2 separate regions of the Homo sapiens genome follow, and region 2 is reported to be linked to region 1. The links are microRNA targets in miRTarBase. Many come from high-throughput screens and were not tested one by one. Region 1 holds a microRNA gene; the other region holds the end of a gene's coding sequence.
Evidence for each region. The annotated mature microRNA hsa-miR-548ae-5p reads AAAAGUAAUUGUGGUUUUUG and lies in region 1 at 3,043-3,062, opposite strand. An mRNA with a match to its seed (bases 2 to 7 or 8) in the 3' UTR can be bound and repressed. Matches are read on the target gene's strand: a 7mer-m8 pairs with bases 2 to 8, a 7mer-A1 pairs with bases 2 to 7 and ends in A, and an 8mer does both.

Region 1 (4,401 bases):
AAAGGATGGAGAATTGGGTGCTCTACTTAAATGGCCACTACTAAACTGAGTGGTCAGGAAAGGCCTCTCTGAGGACCATGATCTTTGAATTGAATGAGACTCAAAGTGTGAGAAGCCAGGCTTGTAAAGTTCTGGGGAGAGCCTTTCACGAAAGTGCAAATGTCCCGAGGACCAAATGAGTTTGACTCAATCTGAAGCCCAAAGGCCTGTGTCGCTAGGAATAAGTACGGGAGGAAAGGAGATGTTGGAGATGTAGGCAAAGGCCAGATAATGTGGAGGCCTTGCAGACCAAGGGAAGAATTCGTATTTCATTTGAAGTACAATGAGTTGTCTGTAAGGACTTTCAGAATCGCTCCCTCCCGCGTCTCCCGAAATTCCATTTAGGCTCACTTTTCAAAATCATTTCCTTTTTCTCTTTCTTGGTCACCAACTGCTACAGTCACATATGTTAATTTTGTGTGAACTTGTCAAGGAATGTAATTATATTTTAGCAACTGAAGTTGATTGAGTTACAGGATGTTCACAACAATATAAAGTAGGTTCGACAGTATAAAGTCGGTTACATTCATTTTCAAATGAGAAAACTGAGGCCAAGAGGCTGAAATCATATCCAAGGTCAAACAGCCAGGAGCAGCTGGAATGCAGGCCTAAGCAGTCTGACTCGAAACCTTGCTGCTAAACGCTAACCCAGAAAACGTCAGCTTCTAACTCATCTCTCCATTGGAGTCTCAAAACCCATGGAAGAGAGAAGGGGTTTCTGCTGCCATCAGCTGCTACATCTTCTCCGTGGCCCCAAACCTCCCTTTCTTCTTCCAGTAACAAACAAAAGCTCCCATTCAAATGAATAGAGACAAGTAGATACTGCCCTGCAGGGGCCACCTACAACCAGCCAGAACTACCCTTCTGTCTCTGATTACATGCACTCTGAATGTCCTCCCAAGGCCAAGATGCCACCAATTCTGTCCAACAAGGAAGGCCACTGTATTTTCACCAGGGCTACAAGGATTCATTGCCCCATTATTCTTCAAGTCACTATCATCCCAAATTAGACACTACTGATGTCTAAAAGTTCCTTTGAAATTCATCCAAAATTAAGATGAGTTGATGACTAGAGAGATGGATAAAAGATTTGTGATAGGCCAGGCGCAGTGGCTCACGCCTGTAATTCCAGCACTTCGGGAGGCCGAGGCAGGTGGATCACCTGAAGTCAGGGGTTCGAAACCAGACTGACCAACATGGTGAAACCCCGTCTCTACTAAAAATACAAAAATTAGCCGGGCGTGGTGGCGTGTGCCTGTAATCCCAGCTACTCGGGAGGCTGAGGCAGGAGAATCGCTCAAACCCGGGAGGTGGAGGTGGCAGTGAGCTGAGATCGCGCTACGGCACTCCGGTCTGGGCAACAGAGTGAGACTCCGTCTCAAAAAAAAAAAAAAGCAGGCCGGTCGCGGTAGCTCACGCCTGTAATCCCAACACTCTGGGAGGCCGAGGGGGACGGATCACGAGGTCAGGAAATCAAGACCATCCTGGCTAACACGGTGAAACTCCATCTCTACTAAAAATACAAAAAATTAGCCGGGCGTGGTGGCGGGCGCCTGTAGTCCCAGCTACTCGGGAGGCTGAGGCAGGAGAATGGCGTGAACCTGGGAGGCGGAGCTTGCAGTGAGCCGAGATCACACCATTGCACTCCAGCCTGGGCGACAGACCGAGACTCCGTCTCAAAAAAAAAAATCATTGTTAAAAAAACAACAACAACAAGGATCTCTAATAAAGCAACTGCAGTAACATATTAATGGTAATATTTAGGTGAAGTATACGGGTGTCCACTGTACAATTATTTCAGCATTTCTGTATGTTTGAACATTTTCAAAATAAAGTATTGGGAGGAAGTTACAAAGAAACAAGGATACTTTGAGACAAGAGAGAAGATGAACAGACTTCGTCAACCCTCTTGGTTTGTTTAGGGCACACTTATGCAATTCTCTAGGGGTCTCTGCTTCTCTTTGCATTTTTAGAAGAAGACACAAATTTAGCCTGTGATTCATAAACTCCAACATGGCGAAGAATCATCTGTGAGATTAATTAAAAAGGAAGATTCTTGGAGATCTAGCCCCAAAGATTCTGAATGTAGATGGGGCTTGGGAATATACTTTCGTAACAAGCTCTTCATGTGAATCTGGGAAGAAATCCATCCACATAGAGAAACACTGTTTTATAATGTGATAAAAGTGAAAGCCATTGTGTAGTAGACAGTAGACGTGCCATATTTTCTTTGCTCTGATTGATTTGGGGGTGCCTGGGATTTAGAGACTAATATTTCACCCAGGTAAAGAAATGGGCATCCCTTACATTTTCTTCATAAATTGAAAGACCAAATAAAAATGTTAGTGCTTCATGAGCAAATACTTGTATAGGAAACTCTTTTGATGGGCATATTCACACAGAAAACTGTCACCCTCATTAATGAATAAAACAACTTGCAATAGTCAAATGGTGGGACTCACTATGTTGAAATGAGAAATCTTACGTATGGTGAAAAAAATACGACAAAAAGAAGAAAGGAAGATACACTAAATTTAGGTTTTAAAGAATATTCACTGTTCTCCTTTAAAATTAGATATTTAATTTTTTAAAAAAAGAAAGAAAAACATTCACAAGAAGAGAGAGCGATTGGGGAACATAATTTGATGGGACTTCAGCCATTCAAAAAATAATGTGGTAGTGTTGGAGGCTGTTGCAAGACCTTGGTTCTTGTCTTCTTAGTTTAAAAGAATTTAAACAAGAGACATACAGCAAAAGAGATGCAGCATAATTTATTGCAAAAGAAAAAAAAATTTTGAAAGCTAAGTACAAAATAGACATCACACCCTGAGAGAGAGAGAGAATTCAGGGCAGGCTGCTCGTAAGGATGAGACAACATTGATTATTGCTGGAGGTTATTGCTAATCATGTATTATTTGCATGATTATTCATAAGGAGGTGGGAAGAAGTGTTACCGTTAGGTTCGTGCAAGAGTAATCGCGGTTTTGGCCATTACTTTAAATGCAAAAACCACAATTACTTTTGCACCAACCTAGTAGTAAGCATCTTCTGGTTGGTCCTCTGGCTGCACATGTGCAGTAGCTGTGCACCCATGTTCCTCCCTCAGGTGTCCCATTAGCATTGTAAATCTCCACCCAAGGGCATGTTTTTTGCTATTATAATGAGCAAAAGGTCAGTTTGAGGACAGGTAAAATCAAAGTGCTCATGCTCTCTATAGAAGAAATTTCCTACTGAAGATAGCTTTGCTCGACTGAGTTCAATCACAATTCAAATGCTGAGGCTTATTGTGTTGACTGTTGGGGTCACCATGGTTGCTGCGTCCTGAGGATATGGGCACTTCCTTGACTGCCTATCCTGCCTCAGTACTACTTTTTCAGTTCAGAGTTTAATTTTTTTCAGCAGTTCCTGCTAAACAATTTTTCACTGGCCCTCTTATCGGTATTAGCACAGTTAGGCAATACTGTGGATACAAAGTTAGATTATAGACGCTATCCTACAATGATACCACAGTAATGTCCACAAAGAACTATGTTACAAAATAGAAAGAGATATGTGTTATAGAAGAGATACAAATTAAATATGTTGCTAATTCGGAGCAGAGAGAAATAACTTTCAGTTTAAAGGATCACTACAGTGGAGCTTCAAGATGGGGTTAAACTATACTTCGGTTTGGACATGCAGATACAGGGCAGAAAGTATTCAGGCAGTAGGGTGGTATGAAGGAAGGCAAAGAAAGTGTGCATAGGCACAGTGAATGAAGGGAGCAGGAAAGGACAGAGTAGTTAAGGAATATAAGCTCGAGATCAAATTTTGGAAGGCTTTGAAAATCAAGCTAAGGAACTGGGCCTTTCCATTATTGTTGGGTAATGAAGAACCCCCAACGAGTTTTAGGAAGGGGAGTGAAATGATCGGAGCTTTTCCTTGGGGATATTTTTCTAGTAGCCTTGAGCGCAGTGGTTACAGAGATCCAAGTAAGGGCTATTGTAAAAGTTCAGGAGAGAGGGAATAGAAGCTTAAACTCTGACGTTAATCATGGGGATGGCACCAAGAGAACCTTGGAGGTAAAACCAGTGAGATTTGAGGACTGATTTGTTTAGAGAGTAAGAAAGGAACTGGAGCAGGTGCCAATATTTCAAGTCTGGGTAACAAGGAGATTGAGGGAGAATAATAACAGAGAGGTAATATAGGAGGCAGTAACTCTTATTGATGTCAAAGTACAAATTTCAAAAAATTAAAAAGATAACTTTCATACAAGCATATAGTAAGCCTGCTTCAAAGATTTATCTAATTTATTAATAGGCTGGGCTCATGCCTGTAATCCAGGCAGGAGGATTCCTTGTGTCCAGGAGTTCGAGACCAGAC
Region 2 (4,388 bases), not on the chromosome of region 1:
CCTCTACCAACTAAAAGGTAAAGTTCTACTCTACTAAGTCATACCACGCCTCACCTTAATGGCACCAGCATCTCAGAGTAAAACAGGATAGTTTAGATAGAGTCCACTGATTCTTAGACCTTGCTGGCTGCTCCGGGAAGGGCCCTTTGCAATGGATTTCTGTTGTTGTATGGATAGAGTCCAGTAAGGGATGTGGGGACGCTTCAGGTCTGAAGAGTTCATTTTCTTAATGGCACTGGAAAGGTTAATTCTGATGACTTCTCTCCGCTGCTATATCTCCATCTATAGTTCAAGGATAATGGCCCACTGCCTTTCTTTCATGGGACACAGTTTTTTTCTGTTGTTGTTTGTTGCTTGTTTCTTTAAACAAAGAGAACAAAATCTGGCTGGGTGCAGTGGCTCACGCCTCTAATCCCAGTACTTTGGGAGGCCAAGGTAGGCGGATCACTTGAGGTCAGGAGTTGGAGACGAGCCGGGCCAATACGGTGAAACCCCGTCTCTACTAAAAATACCAAAATTAGCCGGGTGTGGTGGTATGCACCTGTAGTCCCAGCTACTTGGGAGGTTGAGGCAGGAGAATTGCTGGAACCTGGGAGGCAGGGGTTGCAGTGAGCAGAGATCATGCCACTGCACTCCGGCCTGGGTGACATAAAACAAACAAACAACAACAACAAAAACAAAACAAAGCAAACAAACAAAAAAAATGAGGACAAAACCAAAGATTCCTGAGTTTTATGTGTGCTTCTGTCCCTTTAGGCTGATTGCTGTTATTTGATAGTGCATAATTTTTATTAAAATCAAGATATTTAGACAATTTAGAAGCAGCTTTATATTTCAGGTTCGGAAGGAGAAAGACAAATGGGCTTCTTTGATGGCATTTCTACCACTGCAGCAGGAAAATGAGTTCAAGTCATTAAAAAAAAGATACATTCAGGAGAAAACACGTGTCTTTAGTCAGTAACTAGCACCCATGGGTTATACTAGAGGACAAGCAAGCATCCTTCAAGGAAAAACAAACTCTGAGTTGGCATCAGAGACCATCTCAAGATCTCATTTTTATCATCTACAAAATAAAAATGCCTGACAGCACCTTTTCTAATGTCCATTACAGCTCTAAAATGCTACTGTCAGTTTAACATTTACAATCTACCATGCGTGAGGCACTATGATAACCGATAACAGAAAAAGATGAAAAAAAGCCAAAAAATACAAAATAGGTAAAGGGGTGAGATAAAAAACACAACAGATAAATGGATAAAATTTAAAATGAACAAACTGTCCTCCCTGTCCTTCAGCCCACTGACCACCAGAACAGACCTATGTGTGCATGCATAGACATAATTCACAGATAAGGTACATAGCATACCCGAAGGGGTGTGGGGGCACCAAGGGAGAAGGTAAAGGCTGGTCTAGGGAGCAGGATGCCCTTGGTCATGGCCTTTAATGACATATAAGATTAAATCAGCTGAGGATGGTACAGATGCCAGTGATGGCAAAAGGGTATTTGGTTAGTTGCATATCGTAGGTTAGTTATTTGGCCCAATAAATGTTTGTTAACCTACTGGTGGCCAGAAGAAGAAAGGGAAGTTGGAAGAGAAGACAAAAAGCGAGGAAAGATAAAGTGATCTAGTAAAATTGAAGAGCTGGAATTTGAGATTCAAGGTCAAATTTGGGGAGATGGGGATGGAAAATGAAATCGAAAAATAGTTTTAATGATCACCATTCTAACTGGTGTGAGATGGTATCTCATTGTGGTTTTGATTTGCATTTCTCTGATGGCCAGTGATGATGAGCATTTTTTCATGTGTTTTTTGGCTGCATAAATGTCTTCTTTTGAGAAGTGTCTGTTCATGTCCTTCGTCCACTTGTTGATGGGGTTGTTTGTTTTTTTCTTGTAAATTTGTTTGAGTTCATTGTAGATTCTGGATATTAGCCCTTTGTCAGATGAGTAGGTTGCGAAAATTTTCTCCCATTTTGTAGGCTGCCTGTTCACTCTGATGGTAGTGTCTTTTGCTGTGCAGAAGCTCTTTAGTTTAATTAGATCCCATTTGTCAATTTTGTCTTTTATTGCCATTGCTTTTGATATTTTAGACATGAAGTCCTTGCCCATGCCTAAGTCCTGAATGGTAATGCCTAGGTTTTCTTCTAGGGTTTTTATGGTTTTAGGCAATCATTAAAAAGTCAGGAAACAACAGGTGCTGGAGAGGATGTGGAGAAACAGGAACACTTTTACACTGTTGGTGGGACTGTAAACTAGTTCAACCATTGTGGAAGTCAGTGTGGCGGTTCCTCAGGGATCTAGAACTAGAAATACCATTTGACCCAGCCATCCCATTACTAGGTATATACCCAAAGGACTATAAATCATGCTGCTATAAAGACACATGCACACGTATGTTTATTGCGGCATTATTCACAATAGCAAAGACTTGGAACCAACCCAAATGTCCAACAATGATAGACTGGATTAAGAAAATGTGGCACATATACACCATGGAATACCATGCAGCCATAAAAAATGATGAGTTCATGTCCTTTGTAGGGACATGGATGAAATTGGAAATCATCATTCTCAGTAAACTATCCCAAGAACAAAAAACCAAACACCGCATATTCTCACTCATAGGTGGGAATTGAACAATGAGATCACATGGACACAGGAAGGGGAACATCACACTCTGGGGACTGTTGTGGGGTGGGGGGAGGGGGGAGGGATAGCATTGGGAGATACACCTAATGCTAGATGACGAGTTAGCGGGTGCAGCACACCAGCATGGCACATGTATACATATGTAACTAACCTGCACAATGTGCACATGTACCCTAAAACTTAAAGTATAATAATAATAATAATAATAATAAAAGAAAAATAGTTTTATACCCTAGGGTAAAATGTCACACCCTACAAATGCACCCCTTATAAATACTTGTTGTTAACATCATTGCTATTAAACTCTGTTTATGGCTGTTTTGTTTCTAATATTCATTTTTAAAATAAATATTTCAATTATGAAATAGACCGTAAACCCATTGTTCACAGATTAATCCTATAGTATGCATCACATCTATCATTGCTACTGATTAAATAAAGCAAATTCATAACAAATTTTATCTCTGATAGAACATAATTATTGCATATTGAATATGAAATCAAAATCAAATTAGTTTCAGTTTGGAGGGAGGACAATCCGACTGTGAACTCACCATGCAACCTTGGACTACATGTCCTTGTCTGTAAACACAAGGGGCTGAGTCAGGTGACTTCAAAGTCTCTTCTAGTTCTATTTGATTATAAGTTGCATATGCATATCGGCAATGTGAATTACTGATTAATCACGCTTGTATTTCAATATATGGCTTGGATCCAATGCTTTTGATAGAAAGTTCTTAGGAATTCTTAGTGACTAATTCCTGGGGTGATCAACTTCTCTCACTCACAGGGAATTCATCTAAAGGTACCCCACAATAAGTACATGGCAGAGCCTGCAAGTTTGCTCCCAGTCCTTGGAAAAAATCTTCCTGCTGCTTATAGATCCATGTTTAATAGCTTCAACACAGCAAACTCAATAGCTCTCTTCTGAATTCCAGAAATCCTCCTTTCACAGTTATAGGAAGACAGACTCTTGAGAAACACCAAAACAATCTTGTGGACAATAACACTATTTTTTTTGGAGCAAAGGACTATGGGACCTGTGATGGTCCCTGCCGTGTCCATGGTCAGCTGTCCACCTCGACCGAACCTCAACCAAAGAGGCCTTGCCCTCACTCTCCCCTCCAGACTCACCCTCCTCATCCACTGCATGAAACAGAGGTTTGGGTCTTAAGGCCACCCTCCTTACTCCACCCAAGTACTCTTCTTGGCTTGTGTTTCTTTGATAACCAAAGCTGAATGCCTTCCTTCCTCTGTGTAGGCTCTTCATTGGTATTATTTCTTGTGCCTCTTGCTTCTGAAGTGACCCTATCCGAGAGCATGCGCTGAACGTGATGGATGGGGATCCTGGATCACTGCTGTCATCATCTAGGAAAACATCATGGCAAGAAGGGGAAAGAACAAGACTTAAGATCAGAGTTAAGACTTAATATCCACATGGCAGGAACTCAGAGTGAAGCAAAGCTCTTCCTGAGGTTTCAGCTCTACACTCAACTTTCTTATCAGCACAATTTTTCCTTCTCAAGGACACTGCCCCAAGCAGATGGGAGGACAGAAGCTATAAGTGCAGTGTCATAAATAAATAGAAATGCATGCAAAATGCTGTATCAAGCCAGTCTCCCCAGGTAAGTAAGGTAGTGTCTTTTTACAGAATCAGATCAGTTGGCCATAGACATAAACCATGGGACACAAAGATGCTTGGTCTTGTCCAAAGCCAATGCTACACACAGGTTATGTG

Region 2: miRTarBase lists SLC9A4 as a target of hsa-miR-548ae-5p. Seed matches in the 3' UTR shown: 7mer-A1 at 2,832-2,838.

Annotation. Positions count from the first base shown.
Region 1 is chr3:32,503,301-32,507,701 of GRCh38, forward strand. It overlaps MIR548AY (microRNA 548ay), which reads right to left and starts at 3,089; the gene lies at 2,983-3,089.
Region 2 is chr2:102,531,960-102,536,347 of GRCh38, reverse strand. SLC9A4 (solute carrier family 9 member A4) reads right to left here. Exons shown (of 12, transcript NM_001011552.4): 12 at 2,376-4,018. The coding sequence ends at 3,660. Among named protein-coding and RNA genes, the nearest start is that of SLC9A4, 61 kb to the right of the region's middle.